Regions from separate parts of the Homo sapiens genome. Here region 2 is reported to be linked to region 1. Evidence: microRNA targets listed by miRTarBase, many of them from high-throughput screens and not tested one by one. Region 1 holds a microRNA gene; the other region holds the end of a gene's coding sequence.

Region 1 (4,387 bases):
CTTTTTCCCTAAGGTACTGAAGCATCCAATATGGAAATAGTCAAGATATAGAAAATGCAAGCTCTTGAAGGATTCAAGATATAGAAAGGATCTGAGATATGGAAAGAACTCAGGATATAGAAGGATCTGAAATTTTGGAGACTAAGATATGAGAATATTTAAGACACAGGTAGGAAGGACACCTTCAAGGAATTTGCTGGCTACCCTTATTTTTATAATATGCTTGCTAACATCAGCATGGGAGCATCTTGAGTTTTTAGCCTACTACACAAGCAGATATTGAACCAACATTAACAGGAATTAGTGTAGTCTGTTTTCCAATAAGAGAGTGTTCAAGGATCTTCATGTATTCCAGTTTCCTCAGAAACACATGCTTCTGTGAGGAAAACCATACTGGGGAAACTTATAAATCCTTTTTTTTTTTTTTTTTTGGAGTCTTGCTCTGTTGCCCAGGCTGGAGTACAGTGGCACGATCTCAGCTCACTGCAAGCTCCGCCTCCCAGGTTCACACCATTCTCCTGCCTCAGCCTCTGGAGTAGCTGGGACTACAGGTACCCACCACCACGCCCAGCTAATTTTTCGTATTTTTAGTAGAGACAGGGTTTCACCGTGTTAGCCAGGATGGTCTCGATCTCCTGACCTCGTGATCCACCCACCTCAGCCTCCCAAAGTGCTGGGATTACAGGTGTGAGCCAATAAATGCTTTTTACTAGAAAAGGCAAGAACCTGGATAAGACCTCTCTGGATAAATCATCAAACCTTTTGCAAGTGGCTACTCTTACCTTGTTGAAGTATTTCCATCCCTTCTCCAGGTGAGCAGAAATCCCCGGATGCCATTTGATTTTCTTGGGATTCTAATCTGTGGAACCAAGAAGTGAAAGAAAACAAAAAGATGAATAAACAGCTGGCTGCTCCAAGGACACTACCTTATGTTCAAATTTCTGCTGTCCACAAGCTGGAAAGGAACCTCAAGGATGACTTTTACAGAGGGCCTATACCACACATCCTGGGTCCCAAGCTCTTACACAAGCTTTATGGACAAACAGATTTACAAGTGCCAAAACATGTCACATTCTAAGCACACATGTGTTTCCACTTGCTCCAAGCTGTCCAAAAGGAGCATCCTAAAAAGAGAACTTTCCAATTCACTGAGTCTAAACAAGAGGATTCTCCACCACCACCACCATTATGCCAAAGTTAAAACTGAGCTGCAGCTTCCCAGTTATGAGTGAACTGGGGGAAAAGGGAAAAAAATCAAAGTCTACTTTTTCCCCCCAAATAACTCAGCTATCAAATTCCATAATAGTTTTTTTGTGCTTCTTTTTTTGTCTAAGATCTGTTGGTAGTTTTTTTTTTTTTTATCATTAACTCTAGAATCATCCTTCAGGAATGACAAATCATTCCACACTTGAACAACTGGTTTTCACATAACAGCCTAAGAAAAGAGCACCTGGAGGAAACAGCGTGACAAGAAGACTGACAGTGAGGTCAGTGGCAAAAGAGTAATGCAAAGGTGTAATGTGGCTACAACGAGAACGTGAGCTGTGGGTGTTTTGCCAGAACATGGAGTGCGCTGAAAGGAATGACACCAACACAGGGGCAGTAAAGATGGGCACAGTTTGACCTCAGGAGACAAAAATTTTCCCTTGACATTACTTTTCATGTTTTTGCTCTGCCCCTCCTCTCTGCAAGGTATCAAACTCCAAAGGGCAACTGAGCCTCCCAAAGCTGAACAGGCATTGAAGGTTATTATGATTTAACGCTTCATGTTTATAGAACATTTGGTTTACTCGATCGTTTTATGAGTAACATCAAAGTAACTACTCATTTGTTTTCTAACATGGTCTAGAGGGGGACGCAGCTGAGGAGGCAGAATGCTGGGACTTAATTTGCAGCTCGGCCGGCCGTTGCTTCTGAGAACTTAAGGAAAATGCTTTTTTCTGTGCCAAACTTTTCCCACCTGCAAAACTGAGATAACGATTCCTGCCTTGGATGAGACATTAAGAATTAATAACACAATCGACTTGTCAACAAAAGCCACTACTTAGTTAAGTTCAGTGTTTTAACAATTCTGTTTATCGTTGATCTATGACTGCAAATAAAAAGTTTTGCAGGCAAATTTCGCACTTGGAAATGAAGACCAACCCAAATTCCAAAAAGCTAGCTGTTCGTCCCCCCCTAGGGTAAGTGTCCCCTTGCGTTTTTTAGGGTGCCTTTCTTTACCCTTCTTAAAGGTTACAGGGCGTGAACGGCAATCAGGCTCGATTCTCCACCCTCTGCACTCAGACGTGTTAAAACGCTGCTACAGGGACCCAAGCATTTAAATGTTCTGACTCAGGCGTCTTTTAAATTCTTAGAGCTGTCTTTACACGCTGCACTGAACGTTAAATTGATTTTACAGGTTATTTTCACAAGATATGACCCTTACAGGGCCCGAGATGAATCAAAATGCAGAACGGGCTCTCCGGCGCCTACTTCCCTTCTGTCTGGGCGGCCAAGGATTCCCAAGAGCGACGACGGTCTCCGGCCACTGGCCGGAATGACTCTCCCAGAGCTCCTCTTCCCCGAAGCTCCGCCCGCCGACCCTCTAAAGCAAACCTGCACACCCTGGGGCAGCTGAAGCTCTCAAGGCGGTGCCGAGAACCTCGGCTGGGGCGGGCTGGCCAGCAGCGTCTACACCCCAGAACCCGCCCGCGCCGGGGCTCCGGAACCTCTCGTTCGGGCCGGGCGCAGGGGCTGGGGGAAGCGAGGCCCGGAAAGACCAAGCTGAAAGGCCCGGGAAGGGGAAGGAGCCGAAAGTGCACTAGAGGCCGCGACGAAGGAGGTGGAGGCGGGGCCACACTCGAGGCGGGAACGGCAGGCCCCGCCCCTCGACGGGTGCGCGCTGGGTTCCCAACGCCCTGGGTTCGCATGCTCGGGTGGTGGAACCCGGACTGGGAAACAGGATGGTCTCGGAAAGGCTTTTTTGCCCCTTCTCATTAGTGCCTCCCCAGTGAAGGGCAGATGCTGAGAAAATGGTGGTAATTGCTAACATTTATTGAGGGCCTACGATGAGTCAGGCACTACGCCAAGCATTTTGCTTGCCTTGCCTCGTTTTTTTTTTGAGACGGAGTCTCGCTCTGTCGCCCAGGCTGGGGTGCAGTGGCGCAATATCGGCTCGCTGCAAGCTCCGCCTCCCGGGTTCAAGCAATTCTCTGCCTCAGCCTCACGAGTAGCTGGGATTACAGGTGCCCGCCACCACGCCCGGCTAATTGTTGTATTTTTAGTAGAGACGGGGTTTCACCGTGTTAGCCAGGATGATCTGGATCTCCTGACCTCGTGATCCACCCGCCTCGGCCTCCCAAAGTGCTGGGATTACAGGCGTGAGCTACCGCCCTCGGCCAGGCCTCGTTTAGTTCTTAAAGCGTCCTGTGAGAAAGTCACCATTATACTCATTTTACAGAGGGGGAGAACTGAGGCACAAAGGGTTAAGTTCGAGGTCGCCATTTGGGGGGTCTAAACCTGTCCCAATAGCTCTCGGAAGGAACCTTCCCAGACCTGCCACCCAAGCCGCGTCCTGCGAGTCTCCTCACTAAGGCCTGGCTCTGAGGCGCTGCCGCCCAGCCCAGCCCAGCCCAGCCCAGCCCATGCCGGGCACCATACAGTGCTTCCTCAGGGTCACCTTCCTCTCGAATTCCCACCACAGACTCCCTATTAGCGCGCATTCCTCATTCGCCTGTTTTGTTTGTTTGTTTGTTTGTTTTCTTGGGGGTACGGAGTTTCGCACTTGTTGCCCAGGCTGGAGCGCAGTGGCACGATCTCGGCTCACCGCAACCTCCACCTCCCAGGTTCAAGCGATTCTCCTGCCCTAGCCTCCTGAGTAGCTGGGATTACCCGCACGAGCCACCACGCCTGGCTAATTTTTATATTTTTAGTAGAGACAGAGTTTCACAATATTGGCCAGGATGGTCTCGCACTCCTGACCTCAAGCAATCTGCCCGGCCAAATATCTTTCACCTGTCTTAATCTTTTTTTTTTTTTTTTTCCAGACGGAGTCTTGCTCTGTTGCCAGGCTGGAGTGCAGTGGCGCGATCTCTGCAACCTTCACCTCCCGGGTTCAAGCGATTCTCCTGCCTCAGCCTCCTGAGTAGCTGGGACTACAGGCGGGCGCCACCACGCCCAGGTAATTTTTTTTGTATTTTTAGTAGAGACGGGGTTTCACCACGTTGGCCAGGATGGTCTCAGTCTCCTGACCTCGTGATCCGCCCGCCTCGGCCTCCCAAAGTGCTGGGATTACAGGCATGAGCCACCGCGCCCGGCCCACCTGTCTTAACCTTAAACCCAACCCTCACTCCCACCCACACCTTCGGTGAATTATTTCAAAAATATAAATTTAAAAAAATAAAGA
Region 2 (4,387 bases), not on the chromosome of region 1:
ATCCTTCCTTGGCCTCTCAAAGTGCTGGAATTACAGGCGTGAGCCACCGTGCCTGGCCTGGAAACTCTTTAGATGAGCTTACCGAAGCCCGAATTGCAGTGCAGTGTGAACAGGTTAACAGGATATTCTAGCACCTGCACTACCCCATGAGCAGCCCCTCTTCCTCTCCCTCTCCACAAAAGAACCACCAGCCTGTGTGCCAGGGGCCACCTGGATGCTTCCATGTGATACTCAGATCTCAAAGCTGTGCAGTAGCTTGAATTTAAGTCATGTGCTCACACCCTTGGCTCTCAGCAAGCTGCCCCATGGACATGATGTGTCATTTCCACATCGTGCAGCTAGAAGAGGACTCCTCCTCAGCTCGGCATGGTGGCTCACGCCTGTCATCCCAGCACTTAGGGAGGCCGAGGCGGGCGGATCACGAGGTCAGAAGATCGAGACCAGCTGGCTAACACAGTGAAACCCCGTCTCTATTAAAAATACAAAAAAATTAGCCGGGCGTGGTAGCAGGCACCTGTAGTCCCAGCTACTCGGGAGGCTGAGGCAGGAGAATGGCGTGAACCCAGGTGGCGGAGCTTGCAGTGAGCCGAGACCGCACCACTGCACTTCAGCCTGAGGGACAGAGCGAGATTCCGTCTCAAAAAAAAAGAAGACTCCTCCTCCCATCCCTCCGTGGCTAATATCTAACCTGGATTGTTGGACTTTAGGTTTACTTCTATTGAACTGACCCAGCTGCCTTATTCTCAGTTGTACCGTGACATTTAGGTAAAGAAACCACTAAGGGCTGAGAGGAAAAATAATCCTTCAGTGGCTGGAGGGCATGAAGTCATTTTCCAAGTTCAAGGTGACTTGGCTGGTGTGGTAAACACTGCTGCAGCAAGAAAGCCGCCAGAGGCTCCATGAAGACGCTTGGGCATCACCAAGCCCAGGGACACTGTGCACAGTCAAATTCGATTTTAACATAGTTTTCAAATGTCACAAGTCTCTTATTTTCTCCCCAACCATTCAGAAATGTAAAAAGCTACGAATGGTTTGCCAGCCCCTGACTTAGGACCATGTCAATCCAGAGAGAATCCAGGTGCTGAAGCAGAATGAAGCTTGCACCCCAGCCCCTTTTTGGCTGGTTGCTGTTAGTGAAAAGAACACAGCATTATGGTTAGCACAGAATCTGGAATTTTCAGACCATCCATATGGCTGACGTTCCCCTCCTTCTGTCCTGATCATGAACCAGGAAGTGGCCAAGAGGAGATGACGAGAGCCCAGGAGGAGGCAGGGTCAGTCTTTGTGAGCAGTGTTTTGGAAGGCCAGGAACAGGAGTTGCAGGCGGTGCATGTGGGTGCCTTGGCTCTTGTCCCATGGTTGGGCGGCCCAGAAAGCCTGAAGTAGAGAAAAAGCAACAGCAACCCCTGTGCTAGACCTGAAGGTGACCACCTGGCTAAGCACATTACCTGCCAAGACCCTTCTCAGCAGCCACGTGACGCAAGGCAGGGACACTGCACACATACTCCACGTGCACAGAAGTTCCGGTGTGAGTAGGGCATGGCTGGAGAAGAGGCAGTTACAGTGGATGCACTGACTCCATGGCTGTGGAGAGCACCATCACCCTTGTACACCGGGAGGAGCCCCTGAAGAGGCAGGTGGGAGGTCACCAGTCAGGAGTTCCAGGTTCCCCCTGAATGACAAGGACTGTGGAGACAGGGTTGAGGTCTTACAGTTGGCCTCATGCCTGTGAATATCAGCCTTAATTAGATGCTGTGTGAGAAAATCAAATGGACAAGGTCCCAGCCTGTTAGATTAGGGTTGAGCAGCAGATTCACGTGAAAATTCAATTTCAGCAAAAAAGCATCAGGCCTTGAGCAAGCCACCTGCCATCAGCCACGCCTCCCTCCATGTTCCTGCATGTGCCAAGAACCCCACCGTGCTCCACCTGGGCCACTTCTCAAGGTTGTGTCAGCAGCAAAAAAAAAACTGAGGGGTGAGGTAATGGCCCCCCAGCTCCCAACAGAGCAGGCTCACTCCTCACCTCCGAGTTTCTCAGCTGTGCCTGCACCTGCTGGGCCTCTGCGTCATGGGAATGGTGGGCAAAAGGAACTGATAGGGCCCTGACAACCACAGTGAGTATTCTGCCTGCCGTCCCCTCCTAGGTGGAATGGCCACAGGATTTCTCGTGAGCTTCTACAAAGAATGAAATCTCAGACCCTCAGTTCTTGGCAGTCTTTCAGGCTGAGTTTTAAGGAAAGCTGTCCCGCACCATAAATTACATCCAGACCTGTGTGGCCTCCCCTGTAAAGTAAGGCAATTGGGGTTCTCCTCCCTGACCCTGCCCCTGTTTCTCCTCCCATCTGTCCTTTCACCCTGTGGTCTGCTGGTCTACCCCCACTGCAGCTCAAGTTCTTTTCCCTACCATCGTTTTTCCCCACTTCCTCTCCCTAAGTTCTCCCCAGAGTCCTCTTTCCCCACTCCCTCTCCACCTTCTTCCTAACCCACTCTCACCCCAAGTTCTTCACTCAACCATCTTTTCTTCCCAGTATCTTCTTTCCCCACTCCCTCTCATCACCCCTTCTCAGGTTCTTCTCCCCATATTTGTTTCCCAACCACCTTCTTTCCATCCCATTTTCGTTTTTTTTTTTTTTTTTTTTTTTTTTTGATACAGAGTCACACTCTTGTCACCCAGGCTGGAGTGCAGTGGCGTGATCTTGGCTCACTGCAAGCTCTGCCTCCCAGGTTCACACCATTTTCCTGCCTAGCCTCCCAAGTAGCTGAGACTACAGGTGCCCGCCACCACGCCCGGCTAATTTTTTGTATTTTTAGTAGACACGGGGTTTCACTGTGTTAGCCAGGATGGTCTTCATCTCCTGACCTCATGATCCACCCACCTCGACCTCCCAAAGTGCTGGGATTACAGGCGTGAGCCACCACGCCCGGCCCATTTTCGTCTTTTTCTCCACTGTCTTTATTTCCTCCTCACCGCGTTCCCCCCTACCAAAAAAAAGTGGGGCAACTAGGCCAGTACAAGACAGTCATCAGCCTCAGGGCCTGTGCGCACACGGGTGTGCTGGAGATGCTGGCATGGATGGGGGGGTTGGTACTTGCATTTGCTTGAGTGCTCGTTCTCTGACAGGCCCAGTAAGGCATGTTTCTCTACATTGTTTCCTCTCAGTACCCTCTCACAGTGCATGTTTTCAGATACACAAATAAGGCTCTGAGTTTCAGGGAGGGCAATGATGTCCTAGGTCACACAGCAAGCCCCTGGGACACAAGTGTGACCTCAGAACCTTGCTGTGACACCTTGCTTCTGTGCCTGGCACTGGTATGTGCTCCATAAATGCCAACCACACCAGTAATGATGGCGTGTACCTGCTAGCCCAGCCTGCCTCTCTGAGGAAGGGGATAGGGCTGGGCCCTCTGGTCCTGGGTGGCTGGGTTAAGTTCTAAGACAAGGACCTAATTTGAAGTTGGAATTCTAGGCACTCCTGGACCTCCTCCAACATGAGCTAATGCATTTCCGTATTGTTGAAGCCAGTGTGAGCCACTGATACTTAAGGGAAAAGAGTTTAGGTAAATTATTTTAACCTACTCAGTCTAGCAGCGCTCGTAGAGCCCTCCTTGTGCTGCTTCCTCATTCACAGGGACCTGTCAACTCAAAACTGCAGACTGCACCCTGATTTTGAGGGACACAGGCTTTATTGAACAGGTTAAGGTCAAACATTTCAGGAAATAAACATACATTTTGTATGAAGTTGGATTTTTTTTTTTTTTTTTTTTTTTGAGAGGGAGTCTCACTCTGTCACCCAGGCTGGAGTGCAGTGGCGCGATCTCAGCTCACTGCAAGCTCCGCCTCCTGGGCTGATGCCATTCTCCTGCCTCAGCCTCCCGAGCAGCTGGGACCACAGGTGCCTGCCACCACGCCCAGCTAAATTTTTGTATTTTTAGTAGAGATGGGGTTTCACCTGTTACCCAGGATGGTCTCAACCTCCTGACCTCGTGATGTGCCCGCCTTGGCCTCCCAAAGTGCTGGGATGACAGGCATAAGCCACCACACTCGGCCTGAAGTTGGATATTCTTGAGAGCAATTCTGAACCTTTACCAACATTCTACATGTTTGTCAGTATAAACGATTCCATATAAAATAAGTAAGTTAAGGCTATAGGTTTATTCACATATATACACATTTATATGTAAGTGGTCTATCCCATGTGAATTTTTTGATGCTGGGTAAGCCTTGAGCTACGATTAAAAGCTTTGCCACAGTCATTGCATTTATAAGGCTTCTCCCCGGTGTGAATTCTCTGGTGTATAATTAGGTGTGAACGCCACCTAAATATCTTCTCACAGTCTTCACACTGATGCAGTTTCTTTATAGTATTAACCTTTTTACGGCTCACAA

Evidence for each region. The annotated mature microRNA hsa-miR-4707-3p reads AGCCCGCCCCAGCCGAGGUUCU and lies in region 1 at 2,640-2,661, opposite strand. An mRNA with a match to its seed (bases 2 to 7 or 8) in the 3' UTR can be bound and repressed. Matches are read on the target gene's strand: a 7mer-m8 pairs with bases 2 to 8, a 7mer-A1 pairs with bases 2 to 7 and ends in A, and an 8mer does both.
Region 2: miRTarBase lists ZNF7 as a target of hsa-miR-4707-3p. Seed matches in the 3' UTR shown: 8mer at 3,991-3,998.

What each region holds. Positions count from the first base shown.
Region 1 is chr14:22,954,318-22,958,704 of GRCh38, forward strand. MIR4707 (microRNA 4707) reads right to left here and starts at 2,712; the gene lies at 2,633-2,712. HAUS4 (HAUS augmin like complex subunit 4) reads right to left here and starts at 2,773. Exons shown (of 10, transcript NM_001166269.2): 1 at 2,599-2,773; 2 at 783-859. The coding sequence starts at 837. PRMT5-DT (PRMT5 divergent transcript) reads left to right here. Exons shown (of 3, transcript NR_110002.1): 3 at 14-375. RefSeq lists enhancers at 2,465-2,594, 2,977-3,556, 3,557-4,135 and a silencer at 3,935-4,295.
Region 2 is chr8:144,842,969-144,847,355 of GRCh38, reverse strand. ZNF7 (zinc finger protein 7) reads right to left here. Exons shown (of 5, transcript NM_003416.4): 5 at 3,584-4,387. The coding sequence ends at 4,188. It also overlaps a transcript of COMMD5 not described here. Among named protein-coding and RNA genes, the nearest start is that of COMMD5, 7.9 kb to the left of the region's middle.